Homo sapiens: one gene and its partners. The protein of the gene in region 4 purifies or fractionates together with the protein of the main gene of each other region. This does not show direct contact. Each region holds a gene or a part of one and is shown on either strand. Other genes may lie near its edges. The genes, in order: SART3, SRP9, POP1 and TRIM2.

The links.
Region 1: the proteins of TRIM2 (region 4) and SART3 purify together in Homo sapiens (affinity purification with mass spectrometry, with the first as the bait; one large-scale study listed by BioGRID). This does not show direct contact.
Region 2: the proteins of TRIM2 (region 4) and SRP9 purify together in Homo sapiens (affinity purification with mass spectrometry, with the first as the bait; one large-scale study listed by BioGRID). This does not show direct contact.
Region 3: the proteins of TRIM2 (region 4) and POP1 purify together in Homo sapiens (affinity purification with mass spectrometry, with the first as the bait; one large-scale study listed by BioGRID). This does not show direct contact.

What each region holds. Positions count from the first base shown.
Region 1 is NC_000012.12:108,538,657-108,546,335, reverse strand, and holds part of SART3 (spliceosome associated factor 3, U4/U6 recycling protein), read left to right. Parts: intron 1-1,012; coding exon 1,013-1,197; intron 1,198-1,803; coding exon of another isoform or gene 1,804-1,857; coding exon 1,858-1,909; intron 1,910-3,183; coding exon 3,184-3,308; intron 3,309-3,491; exon of another isoform or gene 3,492-3,524; coding exon of another isoform or gene 3,525-3,566; intron 3,567-7,246; coding exon 7,247-7,402; intron 7,403-7,679. UniProt on the Homo sapiens protein: U6 snRNP-binding protein that functions as a recycling factor of the splicing machinery. Promotes the initial reassembly of U4 and U6 snRNPs following their ejection from the spliceosome during its maturation.
Region 2 is NC_000001.11:225,778,208-225,785,886, reverse strand, and holds part of SRP9 (signal recognition particle 9 kDa protein), read right to left. Parts: intron 2,588-7,679; coding exon 2,519-2,587; intron 1-2,518. UniProt on the Homo sapiens protein: Component of the signal recognition particle (SRP) complex, a ribonucleoprotein complex that mediates the cotranslational targeting of secretory and membrane proteins to the endoplasmic reticulum (ER).
Region 3 is NC_000008.11:98,125,038-98,132,716, forward strand, and holds part of POP1 (ribonucleases P/MRP protein subunit POP1), read left to right. Parts: intron 1-2,557; coding exon 2,558-2,725; intron 2,726-3,327; coding exon 3,328-3,503; intron 3,504-4,940; coding exon 4,941-5,189; intron 5,190-7,679. UniProt on the Homo sapiens protein: Component of ribonuclease P, a ribonucleoprotein complex that generates mature tRNA molecules by cleaving their 5'-ends. Also a component of the MRP ribonuclease complex, which cleaves pre-rRNA sequences.
Region 4 is NC_000004.12:153,208,908-153,216,586, reverse strand, and holds part of TRIM2 (tripartite motif-containing protein 2), read right to left. Parts: intron 1-7,679. UniProt on the Homo sapiens protein: UBE2D1-dependent E3 ubiquitin-protein ligase that mediates the ubiquitination of NEFL and of phosphorylated BCL2L11. Plays a neuroprotective function. May play a role in neuronal rapid ischemic tolerance.

The DNA of each region.
Region 1 (7,679 bases), on a different chromosome or scaffold from region 4:
CCCAGCTACTTGGGAGGCTGAGGCAGGAGAATTGCTTGAACCCAGGAGGTAGAGGGTGCAGTGAGCCGTGATCATGCCTCTGCACGCTAGCCTGGGCGACAGAACGAGACTGTGTCTCAACAAACAAACAATTTCCCCTTTCAGATTTCGTACCCTCTTCCTTGTTGATTTCCCAATGGGAGCAGTCCCCCTGTGAGAAGCATTGCTACTAACCAGATAGACTGTTCTGAGATGATAGAGAATTTTTTGTGTATCTTTACAAGCCAAGAAGAATTCACAGTTTTTTGGTTTATAATCTGAATAATGAAAATAAGCGGTGTTTTATGAATATAAAACTATATTATATGTGTGTTTTTTTTTTTTTTTTTGAGAGAGAGTCTTACTCTTTCGCTTAGGCTGGAGTGCAGTGGTGTGATCTCGGCTCACTGCAACCTCCCCCCTACCCAGGTTCAAGCGATTCTCCTGCCTCAGCCTCCTGAGTAGCTGGGACTACAGGTGCCTGCCACAACGCCTGGCTAATTTTTCTATTTTTAGTAGAGACGGGGTTTCACCATATTGGCCAGGCTGGTTTCGATCTCCTGACCTTGTGGTCCTCCCACGTCAGTCTCCCAAAGTGCTGGGATTACAGGCGTGAGCCACCGCACCTGGCCAAATGTGTTTTTAAAAACTATACCTGTATCTCTGCTCTGTGGCCCATGAGTCTTCTTTTAGAGCCACTGATAATTTTAGCAGTGCATGGTGTTCCCATGATTTCTGATGATCCTGTTACCCCCTTCTTACTCTCTCACAGGCATTGTTAATAGCACCATTTATCTTTTTCTGAGGATCTATGGTCTTCCCCAGACTGTAATGTTTTTTAGTCCTTTATGGTCATCTCTGCTGTTAGGCCTTCACTGTCATTTAGTGCTGCTGTCTGAGTACTTTTTTGGTAGGCACATTTCGTTTGTTATGCATCAGTTTTGATATTTGGGTATTTTATATCCCAAACTAATTGAACACTTCTTATTTTTAGGTCCTAACATTTGGCTAGAGTATGGCCAGTACTCAGTTGGTGGGATTGGTCAGAAAGGTGGCCTTGAGAAAGTTCGCTCCGTGTTTGAAAGGGCTCTCTCGTCTGTTGGTTTACATATGACCAAAGGACTCGCCCTCTGGGAGGCTTACCGAGAGTTTGAAAGTGCGATTGTGGAAGCTGCTCGGGTGAGTACCTGTGGTTGTCTCTGAACGGGTTGGGGCTGTCTTTGTAAGTCTCCTTGGAAGGATTATTTTGAAACACATGTCCATGATGAATCTTGCAGTTCATATAGTTAACAAAATGGTCTTTGCCAATCCCTTAGTGGTGGGGTGATAGATAACCTTTTTTTATACCCCTTCTAGCATTTGGTACAATATGTATGGAAGAGGTCGTATAAATTTTTTTAGCTTGAACTGAAAATTTGTTGAGATATTTTTTGAAGTAGAAAGAACCAGAGTTGGCCAAGTGCGGTGGCTCATGCTTGTAATTCCAGCAGTTTGGGAGGCTGAGGCCAGAGGATCACTTGAGTTCAGGAGTACAAGACCAGCCTGGGCAATGTAGTGAGTCCCCATCTCTACAAGAACTAAAACATTAGCTGGGCATGATGGCGTATGCCTGTGGTCCTAGCTACTCAGGACTCTGAGGTGGGAGGATTGCATGAGCCTGGAGTGTGAGGCTGTAGTGAGTTGTGATCACACCACCACACTCCAGCCAGGGTGACAGCAAGAACCCTTCTCAAAAGAAAAAGAAAGAACCACAGTTTGTCATTTACTACTAATTTGCTTCTTTAGCCCGTAGCTGGCTTCCTTTCCCCTTTTGACCGGGAACAAACCTTTGATTCACAGCTTGAGAAAGTCCACAGTCTTTTCCGGCGACAGTTGGCGATCCCACTCTATGGTAAGAGAAACTGACATGTCAACAGCCAGCCCTCTATGGTTTTTAAAATGCTTTGGGGAACAACATGTAGTTAGACCTTTCCCACCATCCTGTGAGGCAGGTAAAGCTGGTGTTCTTACTCTCCTTGGATATTGTCTCTTTGGATGAGGTCCTTGGTAAAAACATCTTGAATGTTAGTGCTTAAGAGGGTTGTGAGGGTCAGAGGCAGGACTGGAAGCCAGACTCCCTGACTCCCAGGTGAGAGCTCTTTTCTCCTTTGAGACCTAGTTGGAAGGGCAGAGATAGGGTCTCTGAAAGGAATAGTGAATGACACCTGTATTTTTTGGGGAAACTTCATTGAACAAGAGTTCCATTATAATCATTTTCTCTTCACAAGTAACCTCTTCCATAACAGCAGGAATTTTACATGAGTTTAGATCATTCCTCTATGGGAGGGATTTGGTTCAGAAGTGCAGTTGATTGGAAGTACTCATAAGTGAGTTTCTTGGGGTTTGGTAAAGAGTTTCCTTATTTGGTAAATACATTTTGGCAATCTAAGCCTTTGAGTCTTTGGAGCTATGAGTGTGTGCGTGCTGGGAGGATTTTTCTGAGTATGGGAAGAGTTTGTCATGGCTGTTGTGTTTGTTCCCTAGACACGGGCATGTGTTGTACATACTCAGAACCTCTGGGCAACTTTACTGGAGCCCACATGTTATTTCTCTTCATGGTTTATTGGATTTAACAAGTTATAAAGTAGTCGTCTAATCAAATGGTTGGGTATCATGCAGAAAACACTAGAGCTGAGCCGGCTTGCAGATTTCACCTACCAGCGTGAAACAACCTAGCATAATGATTAGAGTGCGAACTTGAGCCAGACTGCTTGGGTTCACAGCCTTGCTCTACCATTAACTGTAGACGAGCAACTGAACCCTCTGCTTCAGTTTCCTCAACTGCAAAATGAGGATCACAATAGACTACCTTGTAGAGTGGGATGACTGAATGAGTTAGTGGATGTGAAGTGGTAGAACATAGGTAACACTGGGTAAGTGTTGTTAAATCGTTGCCACTAGTGTCATTGACTGATTAATTAGCTGGGAGGGTTGCCTGGGACATTGTTTTAAGACAGATTCTACAGACAGGTTTGGGCTCAGCAGAAATCAGAATTTGATCAGTAAGAGCTGCCATGCCACAGATGTGGGAGGGGCTAGTGGCACCTGAGTCTCATGGCTTAATCTGTGTTTGGGTTGATAAAGCCCAATGGCAAGACCCACGGGGCTGAATCCATCTTTCAATAGATATGGAGGCCACATTTGCAGAGTATGAAGAATGGTCAGAAGACCCAATACCAGAGTCAGTAATTCAGAACTATAACAAAGCACTACAGCAGCTGGAGAAATATAAACCCTATGAAGAAGCACTGGTAAGTGTTGGCTTCTTTTATAGTAAACGTCTCTCTACAAACCTTTCCCTGATGGATAGTTGCGAGTTAAACAGTATCTTTAAAATGTTTTATTCTGAAATATATAGAGTGTATAAATGTATACGTACAGTTTACATACTAATAATAAAGTGAACATCCATGTACCTACCACCCAGGTTAAGAAATAGAACATTGCCAGTACCTTAGAAGTCTCCTATGTGCCCCTCTCCGATTGCCTCCTCCTCCCTCTCCCGAGAGGTAATCACTTTCCTGACTTTTGTGATGATAATTCCCTTGCTTTTCTTTATAGTTTTACAAGCTATGAAAGTATCCTTAATTAATATATTGTTTAATTTTGCTTGCTTTTGAACTTTTATATATTGGAATCATGCTGTATATTTTATTTTCATTGAACATGCTTTTGGGTTTTACTCATGTTGCTAAGTATAACTCCGGTGCATTTGTTTTCACTGCTGTAAAGTTGTCTGTGTACTGCGATGTATTTATCCATGTTGCTGGATAGTTGGGTCATTTCCAGGTTTTTGCTAGGAGAAGGAGCAGCGCCACTCTGAACATTCTTGTGTGTATCTCCTTGTACACATGAAAAAGAGTTTCTCTAGAATACGTACTTAGGAATGACTTTGCTGGATCATAGGGTGATGTTAAAGTGTTTTCCAGGTTATCAGTTTGCACTGCTGTGAGCAGTATCTGAGAGTTCTCGTTGCTTGTGCCAATCTTGGATATTGGTCATACTTAAATTTTACTTAATTTGATGAATTTGAAATTGTAGTTTTAATTTGTATTTTCTTGGTTACTAATGAAGTTGAGCATCTTTTCACGTGGATTGGCCATTCAAATTTTTGTGCGTGTTAAAGTGTTCAGGCTGGGCACAGTGGCTTATGCCTATAATCCCAGCACTTTGGGAGGCCAAGGCGGGAGGATTGCTGGAGCCCAGGAGTTTGAGATCAGCCTGGCAGCGTAGCACAACCCTGTCTCTACCAAAAAAAAAAAAAAAAAAAAAAAAAAAAAGCCGGGCTTGGTGGCATGTGTCTGTAGTCCCAGCTTCTCCAGAGGCGAAGGTAGGAGGATTGTTTGAGCCCAGGAGGTCAAGGCTGCAGTGAGCTGTAATCATGCCACTGCATTGTCACCTAAGTGACAAAGCAAAACCCTATTTCTTAAAAAAAAGTCTGGGCCGGGCGGGGTGGCTCATGCCTGTAATCCCAGCACTTTCGGAGCCCAAGGCAGGTGAATCATGAGGTCAGGAGTTTGAGACCAGCCTGGCCAACATAGTGAAACCCCGTCTCTACTAAAAATACAAAAAATTAGCTGGGCATGGTGGCGGGCGCCTGTAATCCCAGCTGTTTGGGAGGCTGAGGCAGGGGAATCGCTTGAAGCCGGGAGGTGGAGGTTGCTGTGAGCCGAGATCGCACCACTGCACTCCATCCAGCCTGGGCAACAGTGTGAGACTCCGTCTCAAAAAAAAAAGTCTTTGACCCATTTCCCTTTTGATGTATCTTTTTTCTAATTGATTTGTGGGAGTGCTTTGTCTTAAGTCTTATTTTAGGCTGTATGTGTTGCAGATTTTCTCCCCAGTTGTTTGTCTTTTCACTTCTTTTTTTTTGAGACTGGAGTTTCGCTTTCACCCAGGCTGGAGTGAAGTGGCGTGATCTCGGCTCACTGCAACTTCCGCCCCGCCAGGTTCAAGCGATTCTCCTGCCTCAGCCTCCCAATTAGCTGGGATTATAGGCCCTTGTCACCAAGCCCCGCTAATTTTTGTATTTTTAGTAGAGACGGGGTTTCGCCATGTTGGCCAGGCTGGTCTCATACTCCTGACCTCAGGTGATTCACCTGCCTCAGCCTCCCAAAGGGCTGGGATTACAGGCGTGAGTCACTGCAACTGCCTTTTCACTTTTTTATTTTTTAACAGTGTCTTTTGATGAACAGTTCTTAGTGATCAATTAGATTAAAATTCTTTCCCTTTTGGTTGTGCTTTTGTTGTGCTTATTTAAAAAATATTCCCTACTTAGCTCTAATTTCTTCTAAAAGTTTTATAGTTTTCTGTTTCATATTTAGGCCCTCATCCACCTGGGATTGATTTTTGAGTGGTATGAGACTGCGTCTGGTTTCATTTTTCCATATGGAGAACCAGTTGTTCTAGTACTGAGTTTGATCATTCCTTCTTCCCCTCACTGATGTGCAGTGCCACATCTGTCATAGATTAGCTGTCCATTTATGTGTGGGTCTTTCTTCTGGATTTTCTGTTCTGTCCCACTGGTTTATGTTACACTGTTGTAATGATGAGAGTTATAATGTTTTGCTCTTGGATAGGGTGAGTCCCATCCACCTTTTTCCTCTTCAAGAGGATCTTGGCTTTTTTTTTTTTTTTGCCTTCAATGCTTCCATCGGATTTAGAATCAGCTTTTCTAGTTATATTTTTAAAATCTTTTTTTTTTTAATTGGAATTGCATTGAACCTGGAGATCAATTTGGGGAATAATTTACATCTTCCAATCTATGAACATATATAGGTTTCTGCTACTTATATCTTGTCTTTCTGTAAAGCTTTATAATAATATTATAAATTTGTCCAGTGTCTTCAACACTTGACCTTTAGAGTCCCCTGCAAGGGAGATTTGCTGGTAACAGATTTTCTGTGTTCAAAAAGGTCTTTGCTTCCCTTCTTGAAAATTATTTTCTTAGGCTATAGAATTCTAGACCGACAACAGCAAAAGAATTCTAGACGGACAATGTGTCCTCTCAGCAATTGATTGTATCTTTCTGTCTTCTGATGTCTGTTGTTGCTGTTGAGAAGTCAGCGGTTTGTATAAATCTTGCTTCTTCAGAGGTAGTCACTTTTTTGTCTGACTGCTTTTAAGATCTCATTGATTTGGTTTGCTGTCCTCTAATTTCACTGCAGTAGGTCCATGTGTGGACTGGCTTGAAGTTTTTTGGGCTTCTTGACTCTTTTTTTCTATCTTTCTTTGCCAACAATAGGATTGTGAAGGTCAGATTCTTAATATACGTCAAGCCAGCAAAAGGTTAATGTTTACTTAGCTTGCCACCCTCATTTAGATTTTGTCCTTAGTCCTTAGTATTTCTTGTTTCTTTGCCAGTTTGTTGATGACTTTTAAGAAGATATTATATTTAATTTAGCAGTTTTAGTTGTTTTGAATGGTACAGTGTGTCTGGGTAACTAATTCTTCCTCGTTACTGGAAATGGAGGCCCTGAAACATCCCCTTTCTACATATGGAGTCTGTGTGTTCTCTTACTCTCCTGCACTGCTTCATCCTTTCTTTTTCATGTGTAAATGATTTGCATGTACCTGTGCTTCCCAAAACTTCGATCATTCAATTATGTCATGGCCATCAGCAAAATGTGCCTGAAGAGAAAACATGTCGAATAAGATTTTTTTCTAAAAAGAATTTGATTGTATGTCTTTGGATCATTAAACATTCAGCACAGCTGCCTTCATCTTCTGCATTTATCTACATTCTTCCAGGAACTGATATTTGGAATAAGAAACCTGAAATAGCATCAGGCACCAAAATTTTCCAGTTTGGTTGTATTAACTCTACTCAGTAGCCCAAGAACATGACTTCTGGTTTGGAAGGGTGGTTGACAGTGGTCACTGGCAAAGGTGTTGCTCTTTCACTCAGTTCCTGATTGATGGGCTACTTAATTCCCTGTGGTCTAGGAATGGATTTAGAAAAGAGTTTATGGAGCCTTTGTAGCGACTGCCATGAACTGGCACTTTGGACCAGATGAGAAGACTCTTGTTTTGCTCAAGAAGTTGTAGAGGCCATAGTGGAGTGGTTCTGAGAGTGAGGATTTGGCGATTCATAGTTACTGTAGCCAGTTTTGCCAAAATTTATTTTATTTGCAGATGTGTTGTGCTTCCTGCCAGTAACTAAATTCAATACAATTTTCCTGTACTCCAGTTGCAGGCAGAGGCACCAAGGCTGGCAGAATATCAAGCATATATCGATTTTGAGATGAAAATTGGCGATCCTGCTCGCATTCAGTTGATCTTTGAGCGCGCCCTGGTCGAGAACTGCCTTGTCCCAGACTTATGGATCCGTTACAGTCAGTACCTAGTAAGATCACTGTTCTAATTTCATTTTATTTTTGCCAATTTAGAATCTACTTAAAATCAGTAAGAGTGCCAGGAGTTTGTTGCATACGGCCCTACTCTTGCTTTTCCTCCATCTGCTTTTTCTCCTCTTTGCCAACTCGTTTAGAAAGTTTTAGTGTTTCAAGTTATTTAAAAATGGTCACTAACTGTAAGTAAAATGAGCATATTGTCTGTGTTGAGGACTTATAACAACTTGATATTTTTCTTTTAACTTTTTATTATGGCAAAAATGTAAACAT
Region 2 (7,679 bases), on a different chromosome or scaffold from region 4:
ACATGGTGAAATCTCATCTCTACTAAAAATACAAAAATTAGCTGGGTGTGGTGGTGCCCACCTGTAATCCCACCTACTTGGGAGGCCGAGGCAGGAGAATTGCTTGAACCCGGAAGGCAGAGGTTGCAGTGAGCCAAGAATGAACCATTGCACTCCAGTCTGGGTAATAGAGCCAGACTCCTTCTTTAAAAAAAAAAAAAAAAAAAAGTCCAGGCACAGTGGCTCACGCCTATAATCCCAACACTTTGGGAGGCCAAGGCGGGCAGATCACGAGGTCAGGAGTTCGAGACCATCCTGGCTAACAGGGTGAAACCCCGTCTCTACTAAAAATACACAAAATTAGCCAGGCGTGGTGGCGGGCGCCTGTAGTCCCAGCTACTCAGGAGGCTGAGGCAGGAGAATGGCGTGAACCCAGGAGGCAGTTTGCAGTGAGCCGAGATTGCGCCACTGCACTCCAGCCTGGGCGACAGAGCGAGACTCCATCAAACAAACAAACAAATAAAAAGAAAAGGCCAGGCGCAGTGGCTCACCCCTGTAATCTCAGCACTTTCAGAGGCCAAGGTGGGTGGATCATGAGGTAAAGAGATGGAGACCATCCTGGTCAACATGGTGAAAACCCCGTCTCTACTAAAAAAAAAAAAAAAAAAAATTAGTTGGGCGTGGTGGTGCACGGCTGTAGTCCCAGCTACTCAGGAGGCTGAGGCAGGAGAATCACTTGAACCCAGGAGGTGGAGGCTGCAGTGAGCAGAGATCGCCCACTGCACTCCAGCCTTGCAACAGAGCGAGACTCCGTCTAAATAGAAATCACTCTGGGCTGTGCACTGTGGCCCATGTGTGTAATCCCAGCAACTTGGGAGGCTGAGTGGGAGGACTGCTTGAAGCCAGGAGTTCAAGACCAGCCTGGGCAACATAGCGATATCCTGTCTCTAAAAAAATTTTTTTAATTAAAAAAAATCCCCAGATTTCTGACCACGTGGAAAATAATGCAACTAAAGGTAGGAAGGTAGGAACAGAAGAAGCAGCTAGTTTTTTTGTTTGTTTTTTTGAGATGGAGTCTTGCTGTGTCACCCAGGCTGGAGTGCAGTGGCACGATCTCTGCTCACTGCAAGCTCCACCTCCCAGGTTTATGCCATTCTCCTGCCTCAGCCTCCTGAGTAGCTGGGACTACAGGTGCCCGCCACCATGCCTGGCTAATTTTTTTGTATTTTTAGTAGAGATGGGGTTTCACCGTGTTAGCCAGGATGGTCTCGATCTCCTGACCTTGTGATCTGCCCACTTGACCTTCCAAAATGCTGGGATTACAGGCATGAGAAAGAGCTAGTTTAAGAACAGATGATAGGCCGGGTGGGGTGGTTCATGCCTGTAATCCCACCATTTTCGGAGGCCGAGACGGGTGGATCACGAGGTCAGGAGATCCAGATCATCCTGGCCAACATGGTGAAACCCTGTCTCTACTAAAAATACAAAAAAAAATTAGCTGGGCGTGGTGGTGGGTGCCTGTAGTCCCAGCTACTCGGGAGGCTGAGGCAGAAGAATGGCATGAACCCGGGAGGCAGAGCTTGCAGTGAGCCGAGATCACACCACTGCACTCCAGCCTGGGCGACAGAGCAAGACTCCGTCTCAAAAAAAAAAAAAAAAAAAAAAAAAAAAAAAAAAAGAACAGGTGATAAACTCCACTGTAGATAAGTGAATTTTGAGGGTATGTGAGATACAGATGCTAGTCAGAAAGTCAGAAGAATATGAACTAAACACACATTTGCAAGTAGACATAGACAGATGCAGTATTAGACTCAGTTAAATGAACTGCTCCAGAAGCTGTTATGAAAAGACAATCAAGGACAGAATCCTAGAGAAGCACATATATATGGGGCACATCAAAAAAAAAACAATCAGCAAAGAAGAATGAAACAACAGAAACACAGAATAGTAAGGCCAAGATAAAACAGAACCACAAGTGCCAAAATAATTATTTCTATGAAAGAGTGGGCTTCTGTATCAAAAGCAGCAAGGAGGTCAAATAACATATGAATAATAAGACCACTGGGTTTGAAAAGAAAGGAGCTGCTGATGTGCTCTCACAAAGAGCAGTTTCGCTGGAGTACCATATGCAGAAAACAAATGGCAGAGGGTTAAGGAATGAATGGGATATGAGGAAGTAACAAGAATGAGCATATCAAAGACAGGAAATACAATAAAGCCTGTAAGTTGTGTTCAAACACTGTCATTTAAAGGAAACTTTTACTCCCTTACATCCAATTTGGTCTCTACATTTCTGTTGCTTAAGGTCTGAAGACAGCACTTATTAAAGACACTTGACATAATGCATTAAGAAAGCAGGTTAAATAATTTCCTGAGGGTCTATAAAAGTAGCTGCTAGAATGAGGTTCTTCATCTTTAAATGAAATGCAAAATAAGCATCCTAATGGGTAATCTCCATAAACTCTAAGTAAATAATTTCAAACAAATAATTAACTCAAACAAATCTGAAAGTATGTAACAAATAAAAATGTATACTTACAACTAAATCATCTGTTACTTTAACACACAAGTTCCCATCAGAATGCCTATATTTGAGAACCACACGTGCCTGAAACAAAAATACATATTTAGAAACAGTGAAGACAAATGACATTTCTTATAAATAATTTAGTCTTCAGGTAGGCTGAAAAGGATCCTTTTAGAATAAATACCCCCAAACATCTAAAGGCATTTTTACTATAAACTAAACCGAAATGAAGTTAAAAAAAAAATCAGCTATTTTAGTTCATTCCTTTGCTACCATTTATTTAAGACTTAAAAAGTTGGATATTTTATTTGCAGCCAGTTTGAAGAGATGTACTGAACATTCTCAAAACACATCCACATTCAGGGAATGTCTGTGAGACTTATAAGGTGGCATTTCTTGCCAATAAGAATATACACCAACACACCTAGCCACAGAGGAATGACAGGAAAGGGAGGAAAACATTTAGCAGAAATGGCTAGTTAAAAAGTCCAAATCCATTCATTAGCAAACAGTGCTGCAGGTCAGTGCAACTCACACTTTCCATTTTTCCACAAATCTTAGCAAGCAGATTCAGACTAAAATATTCAGCAAAATCAGGTCTTTATCACGAAGGTAGAACATAACGCATTATTACATAAAAGCAGAATTCTGCCTTGAAGTCTCCACCAACAACTTTTCCAAAAACCAGAATAACTCCTATACTGAAGTTCCATGTTACACAATACTTTATGTTCAATATTCTACAGATTGCCAAGGCATTTAGATATTAGCATATTCCTATAAGACATCTCCCAAGAACACTTCCACGAACATTATTTTTTTTCAGTGATGGATTCAAGCACAGTGTATCGCAGTTTTTCCCTAACCAGTATCAGTAACTCTTGTTTAGCTAGCTGTTTTAAAAACTGCTAAGTATCGGCCAGGCGCGGTGGCTCACGCCTGTAATCTCAGCACTTTGGGAGGCCAAGGCGGGTGGATCATAAAGTCAGGAGATTGAGACCATCCTGGCTAACACGGTGAAACCCCGTCTCTACTAAAAAATACAAAAAATTAGCCGGGCGTGGTGATGAGTGCCTGCAGTCCCAGCTAATCGGGAGGCTGAGGCAAGAGAATGGTGTGAACCAGGGAGGTGGAGCTTGCAGTGAGCCGAGATCGCACCATTGCACTCCAGCCTGGGGACAGAGCGAGACTCCATTTCAAAAAAAATAAATAAATAAAATAAAATAAAATAAAAACTGCTACTTATCTACAAGCCAGAACAGAAACATAATTTTAAAATGGTTACAATCTAGCACCAGAGGCCTCAAGACAATTCTGGAAACTAAATAAAAAGGGCTAATGGAACTGCAACCTACAGCTTTCCCCATTACGGTCTTTGCATTCCTGAGACTGAAAAAAAAAAGTTACATCACTATATGCGATTTGTCTGAGTGAAGGAGGAAAGGGAACTCATCAAGCATTTAAGCAGGTATAAATAGTAGTAACTAGGTTAATTATCTTTAGAATACCTGATTCTATTTATTTATCTAGTAAATTCAGTTTTACACATTTTAAAAATTCAGTTCTCTAGAAACGAAACACTTAAAAATATACTAAGCATGACAACTATGTGAAGTTTTAACTCTCAGTTAAAGGAACACTCACTGGTTTCATTTAGGAGAAATGAGAGTTAAAAGGCCAATCATGGCTGGGTGCAGTGGCTCATGCCTATAATCCCAGCACTTTGGGAGGGCAGGAGTTCACTCACGAGGTCAGGAGTTCGAGACCAGTCTGGCCAACATGGTGAAACCCCGTCTCTACTAAAAATACAAAAATTAGCTGGGCATGGTGGTGGGTGTCTGTAATCCCAGCTACTCGGGAGGCTGAGGCAGGAGAATCGCTTGAACTCGGGAGGCGGAGGTTGCAGTGAGCTGAGATTGCACCACTGCACTCCAGCCTGGACAACAAAAGCAAAACTCTGTCTCAAAAAAAAAAAAAAAAAAAAAGAAAAAGAAAAGAAAAAAGGCCAATCGTGTTTATAAAAGGGTCCATTTGGTAATTTAGAGGGTGCCAAGTCACCATGTCAGATGCCATAAAGAAAGAAAAATCAAGGTTCTTTACCAAAAATAACCAAAACACAAGGACAGAATGAATTAAGTCCTATAAAGGGATATACAGATAAAATGCTAAAGAGAGAAAACAAGTAACTTAGACTGGGAAAAAGGAAAGTCTAAAAAAGGAGGTGGCTTTGAAATGCTTTTTTTGTTTTAACCTTATAGAAGAAGGCAGAAGAAAGGCTAAAAATCATTCTGAACAAGGATACAATCCGGTAGCTTCATGAGACTAGAGCTGAAGATCATGAAAATGGTGAGACAAAGCCAGAAAGACTGGAGATGGGTCAGACTGTGACTGGGAGTTGGGACTATATCCAGTTATCAAAGAGCCAGTTTTTAAGCAGGAGATGAAGAATTCAACTTTTGTTTTTTAGACAGTTGTGGCAAGAGTGTTAAGGAACTAAAAAGGCTGACAGACCAACAAAGAGGTTATTACATAATCCAGTGGTAATGCCATCTTCAATTACAGCAATACAAGACAGAGTGGTAAAAAGATACTGGGTATAATCAACAGGTTAAATGTGTTGCGGAGAGAAGACAGAGAATTTTGGAAAACAGATTCCAGAGACCTGACAAAATTTGTTCTTTAGCCCTAGCAGAAAGAGAATGGACTTGGGGTTCAAAGATCTGGGTCCAAATTTCATCTTAATCTCTCAAGAAACTAGGTATATCACTTAACAGATATAAAATCATTCATTTATATACTTTGATGGGTTGCTGTAATTGTTCATATATTATGTATAAATCTATGTAAACACACATAAATATATATTAAATGCCTGTAACATATAAACATATGTAAAATGCCTGTCACGTAGAGGCGGAGGTTGCAGTGAGCCAAGATGGCGCCACTGCCCTCCAGCCTGGGCAACAAGAACAAAACTCCATCTTGGAAAACAAACAAACAAAAAAAACTGTTAAGCTCTTCCTCTACACTCATCCTCTCCCCTCTCAACATATCAGTCAAGCCAGGCGCCATGGCTTGTGTCTGTAATCCCAGCTACTTGGGAAGCTGAGGCAGGAGAATCACCTGAGGCAAGGATTTAAGACCAACCTGGGCAACAAAGCAAGAGCCCCGTCTTTAAAAAAAAAAAAAAAAAAAAAAAAAATTAGGCAGGCATGGTGGCATGTCTGTAGTCTCAGCTACTCAGGAGGCTGAGGTGGGAGGATCACTCGAGCCCAGTTCAATGGTGCAGCGAACTGTGATTTGTGCCACTGCACTCCAGCCTGTGCCAACTGCAATTTTCTGACTGGGTAAGAGGTGAAATATTCTCTTTCTTGTCTATTCTAGACATGCTTTGCTCACAGTGATGCTCTAATTATTTTCATTTTCCCTACCACTGCCATCACATTCTTACAGTACAGTTACTCTTGATGTGAATTTATATATTCTTTACTGTTGTCTCAAGTATTTTTAGTTTATACTGTGGGTACTTCTGGATAAAAGTCCTGTGTGGTCTCAGAGTAGCATTGTCTGAATGAAGAAACAAATGACCCTGCCAACAAGGGAAGCTAACCAAATGAAGCAACCAGAAGTCACCAGTGTTATAAACAAATTACTCAATTTAAAAAATACAATTTCCATCATTTATTATTGTATCATTTTATTGTAAAAAATAGAAGTATGTTTTACAGCTTGTTACTTAGCTAGGTCTTTCTGTGGGTCTAATACTATTTTTAATCATAATTATCAACATTTCTTGCTGCACACTTTAAACTTATATGCACTATAAACTGTATGTGGCATTGGAGTTACAGGTTACCAGCTCACTGCATACACTTAAAACATAATTCATATTACTTAATGATCATCAATAGTTTCACACAGTAAATCCTGAGCCCTGGGCTGGGCGCAGTGGCTCACACCTGTAATCCCAACACTTTGGGAGGCCAACGCGGGTGGATCACGAGGTCAGGAGTTCCAGACCAGCCTGGCCAAGATGGTGAAACCCCGCCTCTATTAAAAATACAAAAAATTAGCCAGGTGTGGTGGCAGGCGCCTGTAAACCTAGCTACTCGGGAAGCTGAGGCAGGAGAACCGTTTGAACCCAGGAAGTGGAGGTTGCAGCGAGCTGAGATTGAGCCATTGCACTCCAGTCCGGGCGACAGTGCGAGATTTCGTCTCAAAAAAAATAAAACTATTGAAAAAAAAAAAAAAAGATCCTGAGCCCCGGTTTTCCGAGATTTTATCTGCTTTTAATTTTCTTTCTTCTCCGAGGGATACAGTCACAATACACTGGATCTATAATACCCTCCAATAATACCAGCTCCTTAAGGGTTGAACGGAATCTCATTCACCTTTGTGTCTCCCACAGAACCTAATTTAACTTGGGGTCAGTAACACGAGAGTGGGAAATGAATGCAGCATAAAAGAGATAACTGAGTTACAACAAACACAAAACAAAAGAAGCATCATACATAACCAGGTCTGAGGTTTTCAGTATAAAATCCCTTCAATATGCTGAGTTCTAAAAAGAAGCAGAACTTTTAATTAACACGAAGATGCTTCAAATAATTCTTAGACATGACAATAAAATAACCAAAACCTCAAGAGACGAAAAGTAAGACCCGAATGCTAAACTCCCATCACTTGGACTCCTTTGCTTTTTAATAATGAGCTAACCTCTGACATCCACCTCCATTATAATTTTTGTGGGGGCTAAGAATGTATTTCAGAGGTCCATGAATCCCTTAAAATTGTTTGCAAACATTTACTTATACATTTACTTATACCATTTTTCTGAGGAAAGGTGCAAATATTATTCTTATGGTCCCAAAGCCTGTGACTCCCAAAATACTAAGAACCAATATTCTGGGGGGTACAGATGCTTCCAAATTGGAATCTTTCAAGAATGTCTGAGCGGTAGTAGAAAAAACATCATCAGTTTTATATACATGAGGTACCCTTACCGCCTAGGCGGTACAGGAAAAGTGAACCAAGACAAAGGACAGGAAGCTGCAGGGGGAGGAGCCCTGGCTTCAGGGACTCGTAAAACAACCGAAGCCATAAAGGAAGCTGAGGGACTGGGGCGGGAAGATCGATTGCAGAAATGTTTAGGGCTGAGATGAACCTGGCTGTT
Region 3 (7,679 bases), on a different chromosome or scaffold from region 4:
ATAAGGCTTTCACATTTTTTTTATCTCATTTAAACCTCACAATGTTCTAAGATTTATAGTGGCTTAATAATTAACACCACAATTGAAATAAGCAGAAACACTATAAAATTCTCTACTGATCTCTCCCTTAATTTACAGACAGTTTTTTTTTTTTTTTTTTTTTTTTGAGGCAGAGTCTTGCTCTGTCACCCAGGCTGGAGTGCAATGGTGCGATCTCGGCTCACTGCAACCTCCACCTCCTGGGTTCAAGCGATTCTCCTGCCTCAGCCTCCTGAGTAGCTGAGACTACAGGCGTGTGCTGCCACTCTTGGCTAATTTTTGTATTTTTAGTAGAGACAGGGTTTCACCATATTGGCCATGCTGGTGTCAAACTCCTAACCTCAAGTGATCCACCTGCTTCGGCCTCCCAAAGTGCTGGGATTACAGGCGTGAGCCACTGTACCCGGCCACAGACAGATATTTAATGTTGTCTTATAGTCATAATGCCCAGACACTTGTATGGAAATGTTGCCTTTTTTTTGGAGATGGAGTCTTGCTCTGTTGCCTGGGCTGGAGTGCAGTGGTGCGATCTTGGCCCACTGCAACCTCTGCCTCCCGGGTTCAAGCAATTATCCTGCCTCAGCCTCCCGAGTAGCTGGGACTACAGTCACATGCTGCCACACCCAGCTAATTTTTTGTATTTAGTAGAGACGGGGTTTTACCATGTTGCCCAGGCTAGTCTTGAACTCCTGAGCTCAGGCAATCCACCCACCTTGGCCTCCCAAAGTGCTGGGATTACAGACATGAGCTACTGTGCCTGGCTGGAAATTTTGCTTTTTAAAGTTTTAAGACAGGATCCCACTCTGTCACCCATGCTGAAGGGTAATGGCACAATCGTGGCTCACTTCAACCTTGACCTCCTGGGCTCAGGTGATCCTCCCACCTCAGCTTCCCGAGTAACTGGGGCTACAAGCATGTGCCATTATGCCCAGCAAATTTTTTTTTTTTTTTTTGGTAGAGACAGGGTTTTGCCACGTTGACCAGTTAGTCTCAAACTCCTGGACTCAAGTGATCTGCCCACCTTGGCCTCTCAAAGTTCTGGGATTAGAGGTGTGAGCCACCACATCCATCCTGGAACTTTGCTTTTAGTTATTTATTTAGTATAGTGGCTCTCAATTTGAGTGTGGCAGAGAGTTAGGATAAAAGACTGTACACAATCATGTGGATTATAGTATTAAGGGAGTGTCGTTTGGGCTGCTGTAACAAAATACAGGTTGAGCATTCCTAATCCAAAAATCTGAAGTCTAAAATGCTCCAAAATCCAAAACTTTTTGAGCGCCGACATGACATGACAGGTGGAAAATTGCACATCCGACCTCATGTGATGGGTCACAGTCAGAATGAAGGCATATAACACACAGTTTATTCAGCATTCCCATGGGAAAAAAGATGTTCCCAGCCCCCTTCAGCTGTGATATAAATATTTCCAAGCACTCCCAGATTTCACCACGTAAGCACACCCACAAAGACAAATAAAATACATGTAATTTTTACTGTTAAATACTTACATGTGAGTAAGTGTAAGAAAGTGATTGCTTATCAGTAGCATATAGATTCAGAGTCAGGAAGGATGCTGATGCCAGCCAACCACAGATTGTCCACAGGGTGGCTGAGATAGTGGCACCTTTGCTTTCTGATGGTTCAAGTATACAATGTGCAAAAAGTTTCATGCACAAATTATTAAAAATATTGTATAAAATTACCTTCAGGCTGTGTATGATAAGGCGAAAGAAGTGTAATTGAATTTTGTCTTTAGACTTGTGTTCTATCCTCAAGATATCTCATTTTATATATATACGAATATTCCAAAATCCAAAAAAATTGGAATTTGATACACTTCTGGTCCCAGTTATTTCAGATGAGGGATACACAACCTGTATCTTACTGGGTAGCTTATAAATAACAAATGTATTTCTCACAGTTCTGAGGGCTGAAAAGTCCAAGATGAAGGAGCGGGCAGGTTTGGTGACTGGTGTGGGCCTGCCTTCTGGTTCATATACAGCACCTTTTCACTGGTTCTCACATGGTGGAAGGAGCGAGGGTCTCTGTGAGCACTCCTTTATAAGGATACTAATCTCATTCATGAAGGCTCTACCCTCATGACCTAATCGCCTCCTAAAGGCCCCACCTCCTAATACCATCACCTCGGGGGTTAGGATTTCAACACTGGAATTTTGGGGGACATAAGCATTCAGACCATAGCAGGGAGCTTAGATTTGAAATTCATGTTGCACCGTTTATAGGAGAAAATTTCACCTGTATCTGTTATATCCAAGGTCCTTTATATGTCATCCTGACATGATTACCTTGTGTGCTACCTACTAGCTTTGTGACCTCGAGCAAGTTAATTCACCTTCCTACGTAAGATTCCTCTTTAAAAATAAGTAGTAATAGCCACCTTACAGGGTGACTATAGGATTAAAAACATGGTCAATGTTGCCACCCAACAAATATTAGTTCTCCACTATAATGTTTATCTCTGATAAAGGTGACATGTTTCTTTTTGAAAATATACTAGAGCCTCATCCTGGAACTTCACGACAGCGGCAAACCAGAGTCAACCCCCATTCTCTGCCTGACCCTGAAGTGAATGAGCAGTCTTCCTCCAAAGGGATGTTTAGAAAAAAGGGAGGATGGAAAGCAGGTCCCGAGGGCACGTCTCAGGAGATCCCCAAGTATATAACTGGTGGGTACTCATAAAGAGGTGCAGTTTGCTTGTATTTTGAACTCTCGTGTCTAGTGCAGCAACAAACTGCCCTCCTTGTGGTCCTGGCTCTGCCTCCCCTACCTCTCCTCTCCTCCTCCTACTTTAGACCCTTCTCGCCTCTAGCCTGGACTTTGGCCAGAGCTTCCTTGGGCTTGATGGCTCTCCCTTCTTCAGTTTCTCTCCCTGTCTCTTACTCTTCTTCTTACAAGTCTTTGTGAACTGTTCCTCTTTGTCTTAGCCCCCGTGCCCCTCTTGTTTTAAATATGCCATCCACACTCAGCACAGCATTCTCCAAGGATGGAAAATTGAGTACACACAAATGGCAACCAAACCTTTATTTAAAGGGCCTGTCTCCAGGCCCTTTCCATCCTCTTCTGTTCTTCACCCTATGATCCCCATCCACACTACCACAATTAAACCCTATATTCCTTGTACCTTGTACCTATACCTTAGATATGCTTTCTGGTCTCTCTTTACGCCTTCTTGGTGGAGGAATTCAGTTAAGTTTCCCCAGCAGCCTGTTTATTCTCCAATGTTAATTCAAGATTGGTGTTTAATGACTTTGTCATCTCCTTCAACAGCTTCTACTTTTGCTCAAGCACGAGCTGCTGAAATCAGTGCTATGTTAAAAGCTGTGACCCAGAAGTCTTCGAATTCACTGGTTTTTCAGACTCTGCCACGGCACATGCGACGAAGAGCCATGAGCCACAACGTCAAACGCCTTCCCAGACGGTTACAGGAGATTGCCCAGAAAGAGGTAGGAGTTCCACTTAGTGTAAATGTTTAGATTAGTAGCTCCTAGAAGAAATTGAGAAGTATTGACCTAATAGAATTTATTAAAAATGAAAACCAAGGCTGGGCATGGTGGCTCACGCCTGTAATCTCAGCACTTTGAGAGGCTGAGGTGGTCAGATTGCTTGAGCCCAGGAGTTCAAGACCAGCCTGGGCAATATGGCCTAACCTTGTCTCTACAAAAAAATCCGCAAATTAGCTGGGCGTGATGGTACATGTGTGCCTGTAGTCCCAGCTACTTGGAAACTGAGATGGGAGGGTACCCTGAGCCAGGGGAGGTTGAGGCTGCAATGAGCTGTGATCATGCTACTGTACTCCAGCCTGGGTGACAGTGAGACCTTGTCTAAAAAGAAAAAAAAAACTCAGAAAACATCACCCTTATGGTTTTTGTTTTTGTTTTGCATATATTTGATTTAATCATTATCCAAACTTCTTCCCTTCAAACGAAATTCACAGGCAATTGGCTATTATGGGTGCTTTGAAATATAGGATTTGATACTCCTCTCTTGTAAGGGTGTTGAATAGTTGATGTTCCCTTCCCAGATGTTAAAAAAAAACTCTGACCCTCTTACCGAGTGGTTTTGGATCTGTGTTTCTAGGGTGTGCCCAGCTTGGGGTAGGAAGGTTAAAAAAAAGCAATGTCAATGCTTAGCATTTGCTTTCTGACTTTTTCGAAGTTGAAAACTTGAACTGGGTTTTAATTTTTGTACAAGTCTAATTGTGTTTTGGCTTCACCAGAATTCTAGACTTGAACATTCTAAGATTAAGCCCATGTCTTTACTAATTGGTTTAAAACCTATTTATTGAGCAGCCTTCTATGTACCATTGCTATGCTGGTGGTGGGGTTTGAGTTCAAGAGGGAAAACTAACAAGGAATTTTATACTTTCTAGATTTAATATAAAATCTGTTTCCCAGTGATAGCATTCAGCATGTGTATGTCTGTAGCTTAACTGAGATGAAATGTATGGGTTTTCCTCACTTGTATTATTTTTGGTCTTAAGTTTTTGGTTTTAGTTACAATTCTACAGGTTAAAATGACAACAAGAAGCTAGCATTTGATTTCTTCTTTCTTGCCCTCTAATACTAATAGCCATATTAAGCTTGTGTTACTGTGTTGAACATTTTATAAGTATTCTGATCTTCATATTCCATGAAACTTGCCTAGTTAGTGAGTGATGGAACTGTGCCTCCTTCCTAGGTCTCCTAGCTCTAAAACATTCACTCTTTCCATTGTCTTCCTTCTCTACTTACATTGAAGAAACTAAGTTAACAATTTAAGCAAACTAATGGGATCTATAAAATATTCCACTTAATCTAAAGTTATTTGTTTGCATTCCTGACCGTTAACTCTGTTTTGAGATTCTTACAAACTGGGATATGTCCCTCTACTTGAAACTATAGGCGGAGAAAGCCGTACATCAGAAAAAAGAACATTCAAAAAATAAATGCCATAAAGCTCGAAGATGTCACATGAACCGGACGCTAGAATTTAACCGTAGACAAAAGAAGAACATTTGGTTAGAAACTCACATCTGGCACGCCAAGCGGTTTCATATGGTCAAGAAGTGGGGCTACTGCCTTGGGGAGAGGCCAACAGTCAAGAGCCACAGAGCCTGCTATCGAGCCATGACGAACCGGTGCCTCCTGCAGGTGAGCTTTTCCAGTGGGCTTTTTTTGTTATTTTTGTTTGATCCTTTTCCATAGAGGCCTTTAGAATAGTTTATGATGTGCCAAGCCCCGTTTATGTGATTATTCATTTTAAAAATAATTCCTGAGCATGAAGCCCGGGTCCTTTGCCAGATGCTGGAGATCAGGCAGCCTAAAGTTAGGGGGGTGACTGACATTAATCAAACGATTTACCAGATATGTGGTTGTAAGGGAAAAGCATACAGTATGATGAGCATTTCTAACCTAACTGGAAGGCGTCCCCCAGAAGTGCTGTTTGAGCTGAGCTCTAAGGGATAAGATGGGAGGAGAGGGGGAAGGCAGAAGGAAGCCAGGTGAGAGTGAAGAACTGGAATCAATTCTGTGTGACAGAGAAGAAGAGAAGGAGAACAAGGCAACATCAGGGCAAGGTTAGCCTAGAGAAAAGAGTAGGAACCAGGTCGTGCAGGTCTTGTTGATCATGTCAAGTTTTATTCACTATAGATTAATCTAACAGTCGTTCATCAATAACAGATATTTGAGAATCAACTGTGTACCCTGAACAGGGTTCAGAATGCTGGTCTAGGTGTTTATGGGTCAGTGGGATGCTGGGAAGGATGTTTTAAATTTTAAACGCTTTGAGAGGACAGATTATGTTAGAGCCTCTTAATAGTATTTATCTGATTGCTCCCTCCTCTCAGAAGCTAATTCAGTTGCTTTCTATTTCTTCCAATACATACTTAGACATTTGTTCTTTGCAGAAGGGCCTATCTTTCAGTGGCAGAATGGCCTTGGCCAAATTTTGAAAGCCATTACTATTGGTGTCCTTTGATACCCCTTGAGAGTAATGTGGTAGAATAAGCAATACAAGAATCTTTTTAAAAAATTGTGGTCAAATATACATAACAAAACCATTTGACCATTTTAAGTGTATAGTTCTGTGGCATTAAGTACGTTTACGTTGTGTAATCAGTACCACCATCCATCTCCAGAACTTTTTTATCCTTCCAAACTGAAACTCTCGACTCATTAAACACTAACTCCCATTCCTTCAGCCCCTGGCAGCCACCATTCTATTGTCTATCCAATAATTTGATCCTATAGGTGCTTCATAGGGGTGAAATCATACAATATTTGTCTTTTTGTGACTGGCTTATTTCATTTAGCATAATGTCTTAAAATTCATCCGTGTTGTAGCATGTGTCAGAATTCCCTTCCCTTTTAAGGCTGAAGATGTATTCCATTGTAGGTATATACCGTATCTTGATTATTCATTTATCTGTCAGTGGACATTTGGCTTACTTCCACCTTTTGGCTATTGTAAATAATGCTGCTGTGAACATGGATATGCAAATATCGTTACAGTCCCTGCTTTCAGTCCTCTTGAATATATCCCCAGAAGTGTAATTGCTGGATCATATGATAATTCTATGTTAATTTTATGTTTAATTTTTTGAGGTACTGCCTTACCATTTTCCATAGCAACTGTATCATTTTACATTCCCACCAGCAATACACAAGGGTTCCAATTTCTCCTCATCCTTTTCAGTACTTGTTACTTTATTTATTTATTTGATCACAGTCATTCTAATGAGTGTGAAGTGAATAAGAGGACCTTTTAGGAGTCTTTGATTTGAGAACTCAGCAGCAGAAATCATAGATAATAGTCAAGTTCCTCATTCACATTGAGGAAGCTGGGTTCTGGAGAGATGAAGTGACTTGCCTGGGCTCACACAGCTTGTTGGTGGCCTACATAGCACTTGGGTGGCTGATTCCCCTGGCTTGTGCTTTTTCCACTGTCCTCTGCCAATGAGTTACTTTTCATTTTGGGCATAATTTTTGCTGAAGTTATCAGATATTTTCTCTAAAATTTGATCAGCCCTAAGTAATAAAACTAATAGCTAATAATAACAAATATTAGTGAGTGCTTAATATATGCCCTACCCTGTTTTAAATGGTTTGCATGTGTTTACTCATTTAATCCTCAGAATAGTACGAAGTAAGGAGTTACCATTATTTCCATTTTACAGATGGGGAAACTGAGGTACAGAGAGGTTAGGTAGTTTACCCATGATTGTATGGCCAATGAGTGTTGAGGTTCAGATTTGAGCCCAGTTGCCTGACTCCAGGGTTCCACACTCTGAACCATTATTCTCTGCTGTCACTTGTTTGGGTGAGGTTCCTCTGGCCACTGACAGCTGAGAGCTGGTCACTGGATGGGAAGATTTCTTTGTGTGAGTGATCATATTGATTGACATGCGTTGTCAGAATCATAGCTATAATTTCCCTTTTAGTTCTAGTTACTGAGTGCACTGAAATTGCTTAAAGATGCTATAGCAGAAGGGTTGGTTTGGCAGATCACTGAGCCTGATTAGAATGCTGGCTTCTCCACTTAATGACTGTGTCTTTGTTCAAGTAACAATCTCTGTGTCACAGTGTCCTTGTCTGTCAGATAAGATAACCATACTAGGTACATCTGGTTGTCAGGAAGACTAA
Region 4 (7,679 bases):
AACTTCTGGGGATAGAAACTAAGGGAAGCATTGAGAGACATGCCTCCTTTTGTCAAAAGAATGTACAAGCTGCCCTCTTATTCTGCAGCCCTTTAAACCCTCTGCAGGAGAGGAACAGAATATCATGAAAGTTGCAACTGGAGTCTAGGGACTAAGGAAGTGAACTGGGACAAACAATTAATTTTAGATTGAACATAGAGTCAGCACAGGAAAGTAAGTACTAAAATAATATTAAAAAATAGCTGGGAAATTGACAAGAAAATTGCTACTGGCTTCCATTAGAGTAAGAGCATACTTTCTTGTAATATTTTCTTGAAATGATGATACATTGATCTTCTTTGACTAATCCATTAGCATAGAAAGATGTTTCTTAGTCTCCAGGGATGCTTACTCAATAGAGGCTCCAGGTCACATTACAGAACCATACACTGCTTCAAACCAAATATTAAGAAAGAGCACATGACAAAGCCAAGACAGAAAGAGAACAACTCTCTTTGGAGTCTTGGTGATTTTTCTCAATTGCTTGCCAAAAATCCCACTCATCATAAATCTGCTTATTTTTAATATGTGTCAGGCTTTTGAAGTTTCCAGCTAAAAACCTCATTTGCATAAACCAACAACAAAAAAATAAAAACAGGCAAAAAAGTTTTTTGAACTGTATTGCTTGGGACTAGTGTGACTGAATGTTTAATTCTCAAATTACAGATGAAAAAACAAATAAAAGGAACCATGAAAGGGTTTCTTTTGAAATCTTCTATCCACAGTGTGAAAAAAAATGATAATTGATTTATTTTCTTATTCTTTATATTAATCATAGATTTCAATGCCTGTTTTTAATTTCCAAAAGGCTATATTCCATATGGAGGGGTTTTATTTAAGAAACCTTTTTTCTTGCAAACCCCCATATGTTGAAATTTTTAATAAATATAATTCAAAAACAGAGAAGTGCACAAATCCTAAGGCAACAGCTCAACGGAATATCACAAAGGGATAGTAACAGGGTAAAAACACCATCCAGAACAAGAATTGGGATATTTCAAACACTCCAGATGCACCCCTCCCTAATGTAGTTTTGAGCTTTTTTTTTTATAGAAATATGATAAATGGCAGCAAGAGCCCAGATCAGCCCACAAAAACCAGAAAATGTACTTGGACTCTAGCAAAACGGCACCACATCAACATCAATGTTTCCATGGGGAAATGCATTTTCAGCTCTGAACAGTGATCCCAGGGTGCATGCCCCAGACTCATGATCCTTGAACCCCAAGGGTTTCCAATGTAGGGATTCTTGGTGGGTGGGCCTATGTGGAGGAGAGGAGGAGGTATGTCTAGATCTCAGTAATCAGTTCCCAGTCTACATCAGCTTCAGGGTCTAAACAAGAGAAAGTGGCACTTTAGCCAGGCATATGCCAGGTATACTGACTTAGGAAAAAGATGTCAGTTAGGGGTTCTAGTGAGGCACTGAAGTGTATGTTCGAGTTAGTGTGATTTGCAAGTTGCATCTGCCTGTATAATAGACATTCAAGAGAATTAAGAAATGTACATTTAGGGAACCAGTGTGGGTGAAGAATGCTAAGTGAGGCTAGTATATAATTGTTACTTCTGTTGCAATGACTGATCGTTGTAGATTTTCTCTTTAACACCTGATTCCAATTAAAAGCAAGCATTCTAATGTTAATAGCTTAACATTGAAAAAAGAACCTACTACAGCAATTTTATTGTGTTTTCTAGTAGTTTCCAAAATCCTCAGAAAATAAAAAACACCTAGTATGCTTGTCAAAACACAGATTTAAGGCTCCAACCCAGACCTCCTAAATCAGAACTTACCTAGGGGAGGCCTGATTATTTATGACGATCTAGCTAACAACACCTCTTGGTACTTCTTATCATCAGGAAAGTACAAGAAACACTGGCTTGGTCTAAGAAATACGAAAGAGGCATGTGTTCAGTCAAAAGTGCAACATAAACCTTAGTTGCTGTTGTCGTTATTCATAATGATGAAAATGATGTGGAACGCTGAGAGGCTGCTTTGGACAAAAATTTTCCGTAGGGTAAACAGTTCTGGTTCCAAATTTTCTTTATTGTTTCTTTTGTTCCAAGATTCTGAGTTACAAAAAGCAATTTTACAGATACCTGATACTGTCTTCAGCATATTAGATAGTTCCTCTTAAATAAAACTTGCATTTTAAAATGGACAGAAAAGAGTTTGACCCTCTTAATCTCTTAAATCCAAGCTCTCCTCAACACTATGCAGGTTATTGGAGGCTATGCTGGTCAGGTTTTACTGCCCAGGGACTTAGAGGGGCATCTCCATTTATCAGTGGCTTATCTAACTTTTAGAGTCCTTGATCAATTACACAGTGCTCATGGAAATGCAAATGAGCATGATCAATCAGTGTTATTGAAAAGCACTTTTGTAAGATGTATCAAAAACCTTTTAAATGTTTATATCTTATGCTCTAGTAATTTCACTTTAAAAATCTTTCTTCTTGAGGTACAATCAGAGGTGTGGTCACAGATATTGTCTAGACACTATCATAAGAGTACCAGCTCTGGGTTTCAATGCCAGCCCATCCACTTTTTTTTTTTCTTTTTTCCTCACTATGTCTTATGGTGCTAAGCTGCCACTTTCTAATTGTGCAATCTGGAACAAAATATGTAGCCAACTGTCCTGTGCCTCGTTTCCCTCTTCTGTTAAATGGTAATAATAGTAGGTTTGTTACAAAGATTAAATTCGTTAAATAGTAATAATAGTAGGATTTGCCAGGCACAGTGGTTCACACCTGTAATCCCAGCACTTTGGGAGGCCGAGGCGGGTGGATCACCTGAGGTCAGGAGTTCAAGACCAGCTGGCTAACATGGTGAAACCCGTCTCTACTAAAAATACAAAAGTCAGCCAGCCATGGTGGCATGCACCTGTAATCCCAGCTACTTGGAAGGCTGAGGCAGGAGAATTGCTTGAACTCGGGAGGCAGAGGTTGCAGTGAGCCAAAATCGTGCCACTGCACTCCAGCCTGGGCGACAGAGCGAGACTCTGTCTCAAAAAATAAATAAATAAGTAAAAAATAATAGTGGGATTGCTACAAAGATTAAATTAATTAAGATGCATAAAGAACTTGAAACAGAGCCCATCACTTTGTTAGCGATTCGACAAATGTTAACTATCATTATAAGCTATTATTGCAAAAACATTCATTGCTGTATTATTTGTGATAGAAAAAAATTGAAACAAGTTAAATGAACAGAAATAGAAGCATGAAGACATATTTTTGCACATTCATGCAAAAGAATATAATGTACCCTGGAGGCATCACATAATGGTTAAAAACACAGGCTCTGGAAACTGAATGCTGGCCTGCCCCTGACCAGCTGTGCGGCTTGGGACAATTTTCTCAACAATCTGAGCCTCAGTTTCCTCACCTGAAAATGGAGAAGAACAGTAATAGTGGGCTGACTGGCTCATACACATAAAGCACTTAGAACAGTTCCTGGCACACAGTCATTGCTTCATCAGTTAGTCTCTCCACTTACAGTCAAGTTGGTAGCCTGGCAGACTGGTGATATCTCATGCACACAAAGCTTCCCAGGCAGTAGCTGTGAAAGTACATGCCCTGGTAGGAGATGAACTGAACAAAGCCTAAATTTCCCTTTGTATGAATAGACAAAATGACTGATGCAAGCCCAGGCCTGGAGGCTACGTGCACAACCACCATGCAAAGGAACTGGAAAGAGTTGTTTCACTGCAGTACCAGAACAGACTGCTTTGATTAAGAGAAAAAAGAAAAGGGAATAAAGAAGACAGGCCCCCAAACAAAACCACCCACCAAAGCCACAAACAAGACTTGGCAAGAGAAAGGAGCTGAAAAGGCTTTCCTAAATCTCCAGTCTGCATCCACCTCTTTTCTTTTTCTTTCTTTTTCTTTTTTTCCTAGAGACAGAGTCTCACTTCGTTGCCCAGGCTGGACTGCAGTGGTGCAATCACAGCTCACTGCCTCGAACTCTCAGGCTCAAGCAATTCTCTCTCCTCAGCCTCCTGAATAGCTGGGACCACAGGCATACACCACCACGAGTGCAGCTTTCTTACATGGAAATATTGCGTAATGGTGAAGTCTGGGCTTTTAGTGTACTCATCATCTGAGTAATGTACATTATATCCAATAGGCAATATTTCATCCTTTATCCCCTTCCATCTTCCCACCTTTTGGAGCCTCCAATGCCTATTATTCCACTCTCTATGTCCACATATACCCACTGTGTACCTCCCACTTATAACTGAGAACATGCAGTTTTTGGCTTTCTGTTTCTGACTCATTTCACTTAGGATAATGGCCTCCAGGTTCATCCATGCTGCTGCCAAAGGCATGATTTCATTCTTTTTATGGCTGAGTAGTATTCCATGGTGTATATGTACCACACTTTAATCATCATCTGTTGACAGACACTTAGCTTGATGACTTTGCTAAAGGACAGCTTTATTTCTCATAAGGGTTGAAGCCTGCAGAGAGGCCATTCTGACAGGCTGGGAAATGTAGCCTACCGCCAGAAGCTAGAAGCAAGCACTTCCTCCTCACTGAGTTTTTGAAAGACTAAGGGAAAGAGAATAGAGAAGGGATATTTCCATCTACCGGGGAAAAGATGTGCAGTAACAAACCATCTTGGGAGACAGCCTTCTCACAGATTTAGAAAAGTATATTTAAATTTTGATGAAACTTTTCAAGTATTAAAGTTTGAGTTACAAGCACAAGAGAGGATAAAACAAATCCAAGCAGAGATTCAAATTGTCATATAAGAATTTGTAGGCTGGGTGAGGTGGTTCATGCCTGTAATCCCGCACTTTGGGAGGCCCAGGTGGGCAGAGTATTTGGGCCCAGGAGTTCAGAGACTAGCCCAGGCAACATGGTAAAATCCCATATCTACAAAAAAATAAAAAATAATTAGCCAGGCATGGTGGTGCATGCCTGTAGTCCCAGGTACTTGGGAGGCTAAGGTGGGAGAATCACCTGTCTGGGAGGTGAAGGCTGCAGTGAGCCATGATTGCACCACTGCACTCCAACCTGGGCAACAGTGTGCAACCCTGTCTCAAAAAAAAAAAAAAAAAGAAAAAGAAAAAACAAAAAAGCAAGCAGGCAAGCAAAAACAAACAAACAAATGAACTAAGATCTGCTCCCATGTTACCCCACCTTGCTCCTAAAGGTTGGATGTAGTTTCTTTTATCAAGGAGCAGGTTTACAACCAGCCTTGGAAGCCTGGAAGGTATTGAGATGTTTCTCTGACCCAGTAACCCCAATTCCTAGAAAGGACAGGGATCAGCAGTCACTACACTCTTCTTCCACCCAGCCCTGTCCAGAGCTGACCTCAGGTTACCTCACTGTCAGCAGCACCCCCTTCCTCAAGGACCCTGCCCCCAAAACCACACCTGGAAGCTTGAGACACCACCAGGTCGGTGTGCAGATGGCCGCTATGGATTCCTAGTGAGCATGGCTTGTGAGAAAAAAAGGCAGCCTCATATTGGAAGCCTGTGTTTCCTGAATGCCCCTGGACAGTGATGAGGAGGGGTGGGTAGGCTGCCATTGCCCCATCCCCTGTCTCCTCCCAGCCCTCCAGTGACAGCTCAGACAATGGTGCCCTGCATGTCTGGGTTTACTGCATGTGTTGAGTGTGGGAAGAGGGCTGCTTTTTTCAGATCTTGTCACTATCCTTCCTTGTCACAGTTCCAACACGGCTTCTGGGGCTTCTAGGGTCACTGCTGCCTTATGGGGTCTTTTCATTTTCTTTTTGTAATGGCCAGCATTAATATTTATGCTGTGCCTCCAGTATGTCCAGAACACACAGAGTGTCCAGGAAACACAAGAGCTAGCCTCACTGAAGTGTATTTAAAGGGGCCACATTTCTAAGAAATCACTGATTGCTGCTGTTTCGTTAAAAATGCTCTCAAGAAAATAGAATCATCCAGTGAAGAGCACAAATCAAGAATCAAATATTTTGAGAGCTCTAGTTCCTTCCTTTTGGTCCCCAGTGGAATAACCTGCATGTCAGTGAGCTATTAAAAGGATTTGGCTCCATTTGGCATTCCTGGAAATGCAATTATTGCCCAGTTGCCTGTGAAACATTTGGGGACCCATGAAAAAGATGGCCTTGCAGATTTCACAGGACTTTTGCTGCGAAAGAGACTCCTCAGCAACATTTTGCTTGATGTCCCTACATTTAAAATTAAGTCACCCAGCCCAGGCACGGTGGATCACACCCGAAATCCCATTACTTTGGGAGGTCAAGGCAGGCAGATCACCTGAGGTCAGGAGTTTGAGACCGGCCTGGCCAATGTGGCAAAACCCTGTCTCTCCTAAAAATACAAAAATTAGCCATGCGTGGTAGCAGGTGTCTGTAATCCCAGCTACTTGGGAGGCTGAGGCAGAAGAATCGCTTGAACCTGGGAGGTGAAAGTTGCAGTGAGCCGAGATCTCGCCACTGCTCTCCAGCCTGGGCAACAGAGTGAGACTCCATCTCAAAAAAAAAAAAAAAAAAAAAAAATTAAATCACCCAATGTGGCAACTAGGAATATCTTGGAAAACTATATGGATTTGAAAGTATCTTGAAAAGCACAAATGCTGTTTATGGTGCATGATTCTGAGATCAGGTTACAGCTTTAAAGTTCAGTTGAAACTCTATTTTATTCTCCTGCAAAGAGTGAGAGAAGTCATATGGAGGAAAAAACCCATCCTTGGAAGGTCTCTGGTGGGATATACTTAACTACTTACCATATCAAAGAACACACATTGAAAAGTGCCAGACCAGGTTTAGAGTGAGGCTTTGAGGGTACTACAGATTTAAATGTCTTCCTCCCACACACTAAGGAATAGATCTCATTTTTCAAGTTGGTAACGTTCGTGAAGTCAGACACTGACCCTTTGTCTCCCACGGTTTCTAGAGTCAACAGTTTGAGGAATTTCATTGAAGTTCTATTTGCATAACAGTTGCAAAATGTGAAGTGTACCATTCCCTCGGTTCCAACTTGTTAAGTACGGTACTTGAAGGCACAGGTGGACAGTGGGCAAATACACCTGGTAGTTAAAGACCTATATATCAGGAAATGCTCCCTTAAAAAGCTGAGCAGGACTGGAGGTGTGATAAGGGATCTTGTACCCAGCATGTGCCTTGAGGTGAGACTATGCATATCTAAACAACTCCCAGGGCCCCTCTAGGGAGTGCAATTCCAGTTGAGTTTTCTGATTCATCTTCCATCTTTTATGGGGGTGGGTCCCTTGAACATATCGGAGTGATAAAACAGCATGCTAATAAGTGTGGGAGGTGGTGTGAGTGTCCCTTGTTTGAAAATTTAAGTAGATTTAAAAATTCTCAAATGCAAGGGATTATGAATGTAAACCACATTGGTGTTCCATTACTCTAGTTAGGGAGGCATTGGGTGCACCAAGGTCACCAGGCTCCCTGCTCCTTACGTGCCTTCAGGGGCCTGTCCACCATTTTTCCTGATTCCGCTGTGTTAGATCTTTGGCTGCTGGACCTCAGTTTTCCCAGGGTTTTTCATAAAATGGGCCTGGTGAAGAAATGACTCCAGTCTTGTCAAATCTTAGGAAGAAGGAATTGATGCTGGATCTTCTGAACGAACACATTTCTTTGTGTGTGTGGATATGGTTCTCAGTACCCACCCACTGCTCCAGATG